Linked DNA regions of Homo sapiens. The protein of the gene in region 2 purifies or fractionates together with the protein of the main gene of each other region. This does not show direct contact. Each region holds a gene or a part of one and is shown on either strand. Other genes may lie near its edges.

What was found.
Region 1: the proteins of YJU2 (region 2) and DHX35 purify together in Homo sapiens (affinity purification with mass spectrometry; 3 studies listed by BioGRID and IntAct, with this or other methods). This does not show direct contact.

Annotation. Positions count from the first base shown.
Region 1 is NC_000020.11:38,960,822-38,964,571, reverse strand, and holds the start of DHX35 (probable ATP-dependent RNA helicase DHX35), read right to left. Parts: upstream 2,229-3,750; 5' UTR 2,205-2,228; coding exon 2,165-2,204; intron 1-2,164. UniProt on the Homo sapiens protein: May be involved in pre-mRNA splicing.
Region 2 is NC_000019.10:4,249,995-4,253,744, forward strand, and holds part of YJU2 (splicing factor YJU2), read left to right. Parts: intron 1-1,032; coding exon 1,033-1,177; intron 1,178-3,750.

The DNA of each region.
Region 1 (3,750 bases), on a different chromosome or scaffold from region 2:
GTAGTCCCAGCTACTCAGGAGGCTGAGGCAGGAGAATCGCTTGAACCTGGGAGGTGGAAGTTCCAGTGAGCCGAGATTGCGCCACTGCACTCCAGCCTGGGCGGCTGAGCCAGACTCCATCTCAAAAAAAAAAAAGAAAGAAAACAAAAAAACAGTGAAGTCTAAACTTTTTAACTTGTCATGAAGACCTTTCACAATGAGGCCCTTACCTACTTTTCTAGCTTCATCTCCTGTCATACCCCAAAATATACCCTAGCACTTAACACTATCACACTGCTCTGTTATTTTGGCTTTCTGGACATTCTAAAGGCACAAATCCCATTCTGCCTTTGTTCATGCTGCACCCTTTGCTTCGAGTTCCATTTCTCTATGAAACAAAACCTTATTCATCCTTTAATGTTCACTCCAAAAATACCACCTTAATGAAGTATTTCTTATCCATACATTCAACTTTCCCTCCCTCTTCCATACTTCCATATAATTATAATAGTAACCTATCTAGTGCCAAGATCCTGTTGTGTGTTATTCTCATTTAAACCTCACAACACTACTTTGGGTAGGGTAGGTATTATACCCAATTTACAGATGGAGTAACTGAGACTTTGAGAATTTAAGTGACTATCAAGTCATCAACTTAGTAAGTGGTAGACATGATGGGCACTGCAGTCTGACTCTAGAGCTCATCTTCTTTACCACCACCTTACTCTGTCTCATTGTAAAATCTCTTCTAGAGGACATCTAACTTTATATTCAATTAAGAGAGAGACAGTAACTTGAGAGCAGAGCCCTGAGCATCTGTATTTGTCTCCTGAACACAGGATTAGGTTTTCAATAAGTGTACCCTCAATGGATGAACTAAATAATGAAATAGAACTCTTAAGAGTAATTCCACGTTCTTTAACCAAAATAGTACCCTGGTCTGATTTCAAACAATTAATTCAGCTCTTTATTATACCTAACACTTTCACCTGTTACTAAAAGCGTGAATAAATTAAAAGTATTCATTACTTAGTAAGTTCCTAGTTTTGGATGCAAATAAAACTCAGGATGGATAATTGGCTGATGACTTGAAATGCTGAACCATAAAACTGTCAAGTGACAGACTACAAATTTTTAAAAAGCATTAAACATATCTCTTGCTTGGGTTTATCTCTCACATCACTTATATGCATGGTCAGAATTTCAGAGAACCACTGAAAAATTAAAAGCTTTGCTTATATTACATTCTTGGTGTCATTTCATTTTTGCTGCAATATACTTTGCACATCCAGACCTGCAGGGGTGCAGGTGGTAGAAAAAAATCAAGCTGGTAGCTGTAATTTAAAAACTTTTGTTTTTTACAAGAAACTGTTTGCAGAGAGGAAGTAATGCATCTAGTACGGTCTGGCATATGCACATTCAGTAAAAACCTGATTAATGAGTAAATATCAAGACAAAACAAGTAAAGCATTTTGTGATTGTGATTCGTGTTAGTCTGTAAGAGAGGAAGTGGCTGGCAGCCAATATGAAGGACTGTTCCCTTTTCTAGTAGACATTCGGAGTGGACAACAATTATCCTAAAAGAAAATAACACACTTTCCCTTTTTTTGAGCATTTATTCTAAGTCTGACAACGCGTTCTGCTTGTCATTTAAGCCCACAGCATAGAAGCTATTGTTCTGCCCACTTTACAGGTAAAGAAGTCATGGCTCAGAGGCATTAAGTGACTCGCCCAAGGTCACCCTACTACAAGGCAGAGACGAAAATTCGAACCCGGACAGTCTGACTCCATAACTTGGGCTTGCAAGCCTCCAGCAGCGAGCAGCATTGTCTGTCGGGCCACAGCGCAACCCCAGGGCGCTAACGAGACACGAGAGGGAGCTTTAGGATTCCCCATCTCGCGGGGTGGGCAGGACAAGCATCAGTAACGAGGAAGACGAGGCCTGAGGAGGCTGGACCACTTTAACAAGGTCACAAAGAGTTTCTGCTCACGCTAGGGGAGCACCCCCAAATCCCTCGGGACCACTGGGGAGCCTGAGCCAGAGCTCCCCCCGCACAGAGGCGGCAGCGCCCAGCTCGCCGAGGTCAGGCCTGCGAGCAGGTCTGCTGGCCCCAGGGCGCCGGCCGCGGCGCCAAGACCGAAGTCAGGCCGCCGCATCTGCCCAGCGTTCCACCAAGGGCCTTACCGGGTCGCCAGAACTTCACCGGTCCCACGGGCGCAGCCATGTTGGGGTAAAAGGTCACGAGGCTAGCTCCACCCCACCGTCGCGCGCTAGGCCCCCAGGGCCCGGAGGGCGTGGCCCCCGAAGAGCCGCTGCCCAGACGGATCGCGCCGTGTGACGGCCACGCCCCCACAGCTACCGCCCCCGTCTGAGCCACGTGACCCACTTCCAGGCTCCGGCGAGCGCACCGGCCCCGCCCCCGAGCCCACGTGACCCTGCTCAGCCATTTTGGAGAAAAGGGCGCGCTCCTCCGCCTACCTCTTGAGCGTGGAGGGTAGATGCTTCAGGTGACCTTTTACGAGCGTGGCGTGTCCTGGATGGCGGCCGCACACTTAGGAAGAACGGGCTTTGGGAGAGGACCGCTGGCCCGAGAGTGGAACCTTGCACGCACTGGGCGTTGAAGCAGTGCTTTCTGGATTAAATACGAAATACTGATGTCACAAGCTACCTCAACTTGTCGACTTCTGTTTTATTCTCAATTTCAAATTGAAGGGTAATAATAGGAACTACCTCGTGGGTTGTATTTGTCAGTAAATATTGCGCGCCTGCTGTGGGCCCAGGTAGTGCGGCACAGTGCCCCAAATAAAACAATGCGAAATGATATGGAAGTCTTCAGGGACCTTGAGGGCAAAACGGAAAAACGGACTGGGGGTGGGGTGGAGCGAATGGGTTGGCAGAAGAGACTGAAAATGGGTAGATCAATTAAGGTAGTCCACCAACTCAGTGCTTCCTCCAATTTGATACCCTTGAGTCAAATGCTTGTTAAAAACACAGATTCTAGGCCTTGATCCAATTCTGAATCGATGTCCTGGAGCATGGCTTGGGAACCTGCATTTTGAGAAGCTCCTGAATTCTTCAGATTAACAAATTTGGGAAAGATTACACTAATCCATCAGACGAAAGGTGAGGTCAAAGAAAAAGAAATTACAGTAATCCAAAGGAGCGCTAAGAAGGGGTGATGAGCTCAAGTGGAGGAAATAACTTTCTAGGTAGGCAACTAATTGGAAGGAAGTGAGAGGCTTCAGAATCTATGCATTTTTAAAGCTGTGAAGAAAATTCTGAATTCTTTGAAAGAAGTGGCATCATTATGGCAAGAGCAGGGGCTTTTGTGGACAACCAGTCCAGACTTGGAATCGTAACTTTGCCATTTCCTAGCTCCTAGCTGTCATTTAATTTTAGTTGTAAAATGAGGTTTAAAGAGGTATTACATGAGATAACATGTAAAGTACCTAACAGTGCAAAACATAGCAGGCACTGAATCAATGTTAGCTCTCATTACCTCAACTCAGAGCAAATCCACCAGGGGGAAAAAAATCTGAATTTACCTGCATAGGTTCATGTAAGAATCTTCTTTGATTTATTTTTATAGTAATTAATGTAGGGACTCAATATCTGTTAGTCCCTCGGCCTAGAATTCTCCATCCATCCTTTAAATTATCTTTATCCCTTAAAGGGCTAGCTCTAAATTATCTATCCAACTTAAACATTCCCCCTTGTAGTCTAGGAACTGTATTCTCACTTTTGTGAGAAAAGTGACCTGTAGTTTAGTT
Region 2 (3,750 bases):
CCGCACCTGGCCTTCTCCTTCTACTTACACATGGCAGGCTCCTCTTGTCTGCCATAGGTCATGGCTCCAATCTCACCCCTCCGGGAGGCCTCCATCATCCCCTCACGGTGCCCAGATCTTGCCTTTTGTAGCACTTCAGAATTACTGTATTTCACCAACTCTCAACCCCATACCTTTTCATGCTCTAGCATATCTGAAATCACGCACCTAACGAGGAAAGAGACATCTGGGTCAGTGAAATTCGGTTCATGCCCATGTGTTGTTGGCCTGTCTACTCCTCCCCCTCATTCATTCATTTATTCATTCAACACTCATTTATTGGGCACCTGCTGTGTGCCAGGGTCTGTGCCGAGCGCCAGGAACAAAGTCCCTGGCCTCATGGAGCCCACAGTCTAATGGGAAGTGGAGAATAGTGGTAGTCAGGCAGGTGCACGGGCCCCCGAAGTCAGGCAGGAGAGAGCCCCTGGGGCAGTGGCGCAGGAGGGAGGGCTATAGGTAGCTGGGGTACGGTGACATCAGGCAAAATACTGGTGGCGCTGAGGTCTGAGGATGAAGGGTGTCGCCGGCCATGAGACTGTAGGAGCAGAGGCCTTGAGCTGGGACTGAGCTGGGGGTGTTTGCAGGATCAGACAGGAGGCGGGCGTGCTGGGCTGGGGAGCAGAGCCCGGAGTAGGAGGGGAAGAGGGGGGTGGGGCAGCATTTTTCTGTGTGGCATCTTTCCTCCTGGAGGGTGGGGTGCCCCGTAAGCACAAAGATTGCTTCTGGGAGTGCATGACAGGCAGGCCTCACCTACTCAGGGGGCTTCCCAAGCAGGCGACCCTTGGACTGAGCCCCAGGAAGATATGAATGAGAACACGAAGTTCTCAGGTAGAGGAAATTTGGACACAGGGTGGGGCAGCCTGCCTCTTGAAGGAGGGAGCTCCCCGTTGCTGGAGGCAAGCAAGCAGTGATCTTGCAGGATGCCGCAGGGACAGCCTGCCAGTGGGAGCCAGCGTCCCAAGACAGCTCACATCCCTACATGCTGCCCCGCAGGTGTAAGACGTGCGGAGAATACATCTACAAGGGGAAGAAATTCAATGCTCGGAAGGAGACGGTGCAGAACGAGGTCTACCTGGGCCTGCCCATCTTCCGCTTTTACATCAAGTGCACGCGCTGCCTGGCAGAGATCACCTTCAAGGTAGGTGAGACGGCCGGCCAGGCCGGTCCCTCTCCCCCAGCACACCTCAGATCAGGGCGGGCCCTGGGGTTCCTTAACTCCAATCCTCTCCATCCAGGGAATCTCATTTCAGTTTATCCCCAAGAAACAGACAACAGTTTGGGGGAGATGTTCATGGCAGCATTCTAAATAAAGGCAAAAAGACAGAAGCAACCTAGATAGATAATAATAAGGGATGAGAAGAACAAATTAGCATGCAGGCTGGGCATGGCTCACACCTGTACTCCCAGCACTTTGGGCGGCCAAGGCGGGCAGATCACCTGAGGTCAGAAGTTCAAGACCACCCTAGCCAACATGGCGAAATGCCATGTCTACTAAAAATACAAAAATTACTGGGCATGGTGGCGGACTATAATCCCAGTTACTCGAGAGGCTAAGGCAGGAGAATCACTTGAAGCTGGGAGGCAGAGGTTGCAGTGAGCGAAGATTGCACCGCTATACTCCAGTCTGGGTGACAGAGCAAGACTCCAACTAAAAAAAAAAAAAAAAAAAGCCAGGCACAGTGGCTCATGCCTGTAATTCCAGCAGGTTGGGAGGCCAAGGCAGGAAAGAGAGCCCCTGAGGTCAGGAGTTTGAGACCAGCCTGGCCAACATGGTGAAACCCCGTCTCTACTAAAAATACAAAAGTGAGCCAGGCGTGGTGGCTCATGCCTGTAATCTCAGGTACTTGGGAGACCAAAGCAGGAGAATCGCTTGAACCCGAGAGGGAGAGGTTGCAGTGAGCCAACATTGCGCCATTGCACTCCAGCCTGAGCAACGAAATGAAACTCTGTCTCAAAAAGAAAAAAAAAAGTAGCGTGCAATGGAATATTACACAGCCAATAAAAATTGCAATTTGACTTTTATTTGTTACCTTGAGAATTTAAGGAAAGACTGAAGATAACTTAAAATTTTCTCTTCCTATGCTTAAGTACTCTTTGAATACTTTTTTGCCATAAGCTTTTTTTCTTTGATTAAAAAAACATTTTGGGCTGGGCGCAGTGGCTCACAGCTATAATCAGCACTTTGGGAGGCCAAGGCAAGTGGATCAGTTGAGGTCAGGAGTTCGAGACCAGCCTGGACAACATGATGAAACCCCAACTCTACTAAAAAAAAATACAAAAATAGGCCGGGCGCAGTGGCTCACGCCTCTAATCCCAGTACTTTGGGAGGCTGAGGCAGGCGGATCATGAGGTCAGGAGATCGAGACCATCCTGGCTAACACAGTGAAACCCCGTCTCTACTAAAAAAAAAGCAGAAAAAAATTAGCCAGGCGTGGTGGCGGGTGCCTGTAGTCCCAGCTACTCGGGAGGCTGAGACAAGAGAATGGCGTGAACCCAGGAGGCGGAGCTTGCAGTGAGCTGAGATCGCGCCACTGCACTCCAGCCTGGGCGACAGAGCGAGACTCCGTCTCAAAAATAAATAAATAAATTAATAATAATAATAATATTTTGGCTGGGTGCAGTGGCTCACGCCTGTAATCCCAACACTTTGAGAGGTCAAGGGAGAAGGATCGCTTAAATCCAGGAATTCAAGACCAGCTTGGGCAACATAGTGAGATCCCGTCAGTACAAAAAAATATAAAAATTAGCTGGGCATGATGGCATGCGCCTATAGTCCTAGCTACTTGGGAGGCTGAGGCAGGAGAATCAATTGAGTCTGGGAGGCCAAGGCTGCAGTGAGCCATGATTTCACTGCTATACTCCAGCCTGAGTGACAGAGTGAGACCCTGTCTGCAAAAAAACAAACAAAAACTTTTTTTGAAATACCTGAAGATTTACAGAAAAGTTCCAAAGATAGTACAGATAATTCTCACCTACCCCCTCACCAACTTCCCCGAATATTAGCATCTTATATAACCAGGGTACATCTGTCACAGTAAGATACTAAGGGTGGGGCCAGGCATGGTGGCTTACTCCCAGCGCTTTGAGAAGGCAAGGCAGGAGGATTGCTGGGGACCAGAAGTTCAAGACTAGCCTGGGCAACATAGTGAGACCCTGTCCGTGTCTACACACACACACACACACACACACACACACACACACACAAATTTTAATTAAAAAAAGAAACTAAAGGTGGAATGTTACCATTAACATTGTAGGCTGTGGCTGGGTGCAGTGGCTCATGCCTGTAATCCCGGCACTTTGGAGGCCAAAGCAGGAGGATCGGTTGAGTCCAAGAGTTAGAGACCAGCCTGGGCAACATGGCGAAACCCTGTCTCTACCAAAAAGAAATTTAAAAATTAGCCAGGTGTGATGGTGCATACCTGTAGTCCCAGCTACTCGGCAGGCTAAGGTGAGAGGATTGCTTGAACCCGGGAGGCTGAGGTTGCAGTGAGCCATGATCCTGCCGCTGCACTCCGGCCTGGGCAACAGCACGAGACCCTGTCCCCAAAAAAATAAAAAACATAGTGTTACTATTAGCATTTAGACCAAAGGTAGATTTCAGTTTTTCTGCTAATGTCACTTTTCTGTTCCAGTGTGTAATTTAAGATACCAGGGTGTATTTAGCCTCTCTATTCAATAAACAAAAACAGGGGCATGCTGTATACATAT